Linked DNA regions of Homo sapiens: region 1 is linked to region 2. A link means that fine-mapping ties the variant in region 2 to the expression of a gene that starts in the linked region. Tissue or cell type: whole blood. Region 2 holds a variant in brackets; the other region holds the start of a gene. All regions are shown on one strand. Distances are from middle to middle.

Region 1 (2,500 bases), 22 kb before region 2:
AATGCTATGGGTAGATGGATGCTTTTTTCTGAAGGAATTTTTAGCATTTCATTTGGAAAAGTTCTGTGATCAAATAATGCTAAATGTTATGACAGCTTTCTTGGCGTTTAAAGGGATTCTCTGGGTGAGGGGAAGGGGTGATAAAAAAAAAAAAAGTCTGCTTTTGGAACAGAAATGGGGGACAATAACCAAGGCTCAGAAACCCAGAGTCAAAAAATTAAAAGAACATCTTATTTTAAAAAAAAAGTCAACAACCTGCAATGAAGTCACCGTACCCCCATAAAATCCCAACTGTGCATTTAAATCTTTCTACCAAAATTCACTTTTGGACCATCTTATGAAGTTGTCAAAATTTCAGAGGCAAACGCTTAAATCAAGATCAAAAGCCAGGAGGAAAAAAGAGCTAACAGTTTCCAACCCAAACTCTCTCCGAGCCCCCTAAAAACTGATTTATAACCCTGTCATCGGTAATTTTAGAAGAAGCGAACACTGACGGACGGGGGCTTGGGAAAACAGGACTCCAGGTACCAAGCAGGCTGCCTGACGCGCCACCTGAAAAAGGTGAGGGAACTCTTCCCCACCCCAGTCACTGTGAAAGTAGCGCTGAGAGAGCCCATCCCAAGCCTCCACCAAACAAATTCCTAGAAGTGATAAAAACAGACAAGAGACGAAGAGGGGCGGGCAGATCCTCTCCGCGGGCAGGGAGCTGGAGCAACTGCACCCGAAGGTGAGCAGAGGGCAGCAGGCTCCGACCCTCCGCCGCGAAAGGCGAGGCGAGGGGAACAGCGGGCGCCGGACTCCTCCGACAGCGGTCGCAAGGAGGGCGGCTCCAGGTCCCCACACGGCCGACCCTCAGGCCAAGGCGCGCCGGGCGGCAGGTCAGAGTTAGGAATCAAGTTGCGGGCCGGGCCGAGAGCGCGCTCTCCCGCCCGCGCCAGGGACATTCGCCCCTCAGCTCTCACCTCCCCCCGACCCCAAGCTCTCCCTCTGCGCCCAGGAAACGGCGCCCACACTCCAGAGACCCTCACCCGGAGCCCGTCGCCGCCTCACCGCGTGTCTCGGACTTCTTGGGAGCCACCGCTGAGGGGAGGGGGGAGGAGGGGGGAACGGAGGAGGGAGGGGGCCAAGCCCGGTGTAGCCGCCGCCGCTGCCGCCGCCGCGATGCCGCTTCTGGAATCGCGCTCTCGCCGCCGCGACAGCGACCGCCGCCGCCGCGTCTCCCCGCCCCCACGACCGCACGTCGCCGTGACGCGCATCGCACGAGGCGGTTCGAGCCAATAAGACCACACGCCGTGCGCAGCCGCGCTGTCCTAAACCGGAAGCCGCCCCTCTGACCGCTCTAAAACCTGGGTGCATCGTGGGAGCTGTGGTTCGGCCAGGAACTTAGCGAAAACTATACTGGGTGTTGAGGGCCGGAGGAGCGTGCGCTCCTTAGGCGCTCACACAACTCCTCGGAGTTTTTTCTCCCACCGAAAAAGGAAGCAATTTGGAGCTGAGGAGGAGGGGGCCGCCCCGGCTCGCGGATGCTTTTCGCAGTCTCTATGGATACTGGCTACACACTTTGGGCAAGAGCCAGAATTTGAGGATTTAGGCTGGATCGTGTGTCTCTGCCAAGGGCTGATAGGATGCTGAGCGTCGTCTGTGAAGACTGCGGAAAGAAATCCAAAAGCATTAGCCCAGTTTTGCCCAGAGCAATAGTGTTTGCCTTTTATTACCTTATTAAAGATTATGATTTATGCTCTACCACTTCTATTTTTTTTAAAACCCAGTCACTCTTAAAATACATATAATTCAGAGCGATTTTTAAAATGATGTTAATGTAATGGTATATCAGAACCTACTTAAGCACTAAATACCTGCGTCCATTTACCCAGAATGAGTAAGTAATTTTCCACAAGTCATCTTTACGTTGAGTTCTAACTTCTTAGAAGCCAAGAACAGATTTGGTTACGTACTTATTCTATAAGAAAAGTGAATATAAGAGTTAGTCTGCGTAGAAAAATAGTTCTTTACATTCAGTAGGAGGGGGAATTTATCACATTCTTAAGGCGTAAATGCCTTAACTATCAAAATTCTTGTTATTGACTAAAGGAAATCCATACGATTTAGGGAAAGTCTGTGCCCACGGCTTACTGTCCTTACCTTTGGACCACAGCAAGAGATAACAAAGGGTGCAGGGAAAAGCTGACAGGTCTTGAGGGAGCTGGAGTCGGATATATGACGAAAAAAACAAAAATACAGAAGTCTTCATTATGGAAATGTAAGTTTTAAAAAGTAAAGCTACTAAAATCACAAAGAACATGATTAAGATGGCAATAATACAGAACTAAGGCCCACTCATTTAAGCTTGAAAGAGATAAAACTAGTAGAAATTAAAATTAGGAAATAAATGTTAAAGGAACTAATTTCCTCCAAGGAGTGGTTTACATTGAAAATATAATTTTTTTAAGTTTACATAATTTGTGAAAGACATAATAATAATGACTTCTATGTTCCCAGG
Region 2 (2,755 bases):
AGAGTCAGATTAGAGTGTGACAGGAGCACAGTACGCTTCTGGTCTGAGCTTTTGGAGGCCATATGACTCTAGAATGAGCCCGCCTGGTTTTTGTGAATGAGTCTAACTAAAATGAGTCCTCTTATTTTTTCACCAGAAAAAAACAAGATGTGTCAAGGGGCTCTTTGGGCTGTGAAAGGGCTGTATCCCAGCAACAGCTCATGATGTTTCTGACAACTTATTAGCATCTATTTGAGGGTGATTAAAAACATAATGTGGGGCCGATTGCGGTGGCTCACGCCTGTAATCCCAGCACTTTGGGAGGCCGACACGGGTGGATCATGAGGTCAGGAGTTTGAGACCAGCCTGGCCAATATAGTGAAACCCTGTCTCTACTAAAAATACAAAAAAAATAGCCTGGCATGGTGGCAGGTGCCTGTAGTCCCAGCTGATCAGGAGGCTGAGGCAGGAGAATCGCTTGAGCCCAGGAGGTGGAGGTTGCAGTGAGCCAAGATCACACCATTACACTCCTGCCTGGGTGACAGAGCGAGACTATCTCAAAAACAAAAAAAAACGAAAAAGCCATAATGTGTAAAGGATTCAAATTGTACTCAATTATTATAATAGCCTACTTCTCCCCATTCCCATTCCTCCTCCCTAAACCAGAGCTCCTGTTTGCCAGGCAAATAAGCTACAACTAAAATAAAAGGTCTTTTTAGACAAGGATCAAGCCAGATTAGGAATATTATAACTAGGCTTTCCAATCAATATCAGGACTTTCCATTTCTCTATCTGAGTCTGAAACTAATTACACTTCCAGGTCGTGGGGCCCCAGGTGCTGCTCTCGTGGCACCACTCGTGGGGCTCTAGGTCCAGAGGACAGTCTCTGCTGGCTGAGGCTGGAGGGACCATCTCATTGGTAGAAGTGGCATAGCATGACTTGGCCACTGGACATCTTGGCTGTCACCCAGACTTATTTCAAAGGCGAGACTAAAATAAAGAGGGCTGATCAGAGTGGGGGCAATCAGAGATTGGGCCATCGCTAGAGTTACAAAAGCAGCGCTGGCTACTGTAGGGCAGCAGCGTCATCTCCTCGAGATAGGACTCCCTCTGCCCCAGTTCTGTTCACCGTCCAAAGACCAGGGCCCTCCCTGAAGCCCAGCACTTGAGAAATGCTCGCTCTCACGTATTATGACTCTGGCTTTGGAAAGAAATTCAGCAAGGGTACTGGTTGAAAGGTCAAAAAGTGGTGAAATGCCATCTGCCCAAACGGAAGCAAGGGGTCGCTTGGATTGGGTAAAGGTTTC[T/C]TTTGTGGTTTTAAGCCGTTGGGTTGTTTTTCGTTTGTTTTTGTTTTGTTAGAAAGCACTGTGTCTGTCTGGAGGTCGAAGGGTCGGGTGGGTGTCTGCAGTGCGGCTTTTCTCCCTTGGCCAGTGGGGAAACAAAGTGGGTTTACTGGCCATTTCCGCTTTGTGTGAAGGAAACCTGAGATTCACTGCCTCCAGCACATGGGAGTTGTCTGTTATTTTTAGTTTAGTTCTGTTGTTGTTATTAGGTGTTTTTAAAACATATGTAAGTGTGTATCAAAGTTGTATTTCACAGTGTTGGCAGAAAATTTACAGGAAAAAGACAGAGGAGGGTTTAGTTGAAGATCAGGAGGAGGTAGTAAGACTGGTTAAATGTCTAGTGAAAGGTTTTAGGCATACCAGGATTGTCAGTCAACTGGGAGGGTAACTCTTTTATTTTTAAAATTGTGGTAAAATATGTATAAAATAACATATACTATTTTAACGATTTTTAAGTAGGCCTGGGCACAGTGGCTGACACCTGTAATCCCAAGCTTTGGGAGGCTGAGATGGGAGGATCATTGGAGGCCAGGAGTTTGAAACCAGCTTGGCCAACATAGCAACTTCATCTCTAAAAAAATAAAAATAAAAATAAAAGGTTTTTTTTTTTTTAATTATCTGGGCATCGTGGCACACTGGGCAAGTAGTTCCAGCTCCTTGGGAGGCCGAGGCAGGAAGATCACTTGAGCCTAGGAGTTCAATGCTATAGTGAGCTCTGATCACACCGCTGCCCTCCAGCCTGTGTGACAGAGCAAGAACCTGTCTCTAAAAAAATAACAATTTTAAAATGCTCAAGTGAACAGTTCTGTGCCATTAAGTGCACTCACATTTTTGTGCCACCATCACCACCATTCATCTACAGAAACTTTCTTTCTTTCCCAACTGAAACTCTGTCCCCATTGAACACTAACGCCCCATCCTGCCCTGCCAGCCACTGGTGGCCACCGTTCTGCTGTCTCTGAATTTGACTATTCGTAGTACCTCATATGAGTGGAATCGTAGAGAGAGTAGTCGTCCTTTGTGACTAGCTCATTTCCCTTAGCGCAACGCCTTCAAAGTTTATTCACGTGGGTAATTCGTTCTTTACGGTTTGTTTTTCATCGTTTGGACCCTCAGTTTTTGTTTCTTGTTGAGGATTTGGTAGTCTCAGATACTGAGGATAGGATTGCAGGCTGAAAGTCTGGCCAGGAGGCTTCCTGATCCTTCTCCTCACCCTAAAATATCTTGGCCACACTGGATATATATTTTTTTCTTTTTGAGATGGAACCTCCCTCTGTTGCCCAGGCTGGAGTGCACTGGCGCAATCATGGCTCACTGCGGCCTCAACCTCCCAGGCTCAAGTGATCTTCCTGCCTCACCCTCCCAAGTATCTGGGACTACAGGCATGCACCACCATATCTGGCTAATTTTTTTTTTACTTCTTGGGAGAGATG

The links. PIP is the estimated chance that this variant, and not a neighbour inherited with it, causes the effect.
Region 1: ADIPOR2 starts here. The variant in region 2 is fine-mapped to the expression of ADIPOR2 in whole blood (TOPMed, PIP above 0.99).

What each region holds. Positions count from the first base shown.
Region 1 is chr12:1,689,742-1,692,241 of GRCh38, reverse strand. It overlaps ADIPOR2 (adiponectin receptor 2), which reads right to left and starts at 1,172. Exons shown (of 8, transcript NM_024551.3): 1 at 1,051-1,172. RefSeq lists silencers at 870-959, 980-1,279 and enhancers at 778-1,356, 1,440-1,489, 1,510-1,669.
Region 2 is chr12:1,667,500-1,670,254 of GRCh38, reverse strand. No RefSeq gene overlaps it. Among named protein-coding and RNA genes, the nearest start is that of MIR3649, 8.5 kb to the right of the region's middle. RefSeq lists an enhancer at 1,092-1,141. The variant T/C (reference allele first, on the strand shown) is at 1,287.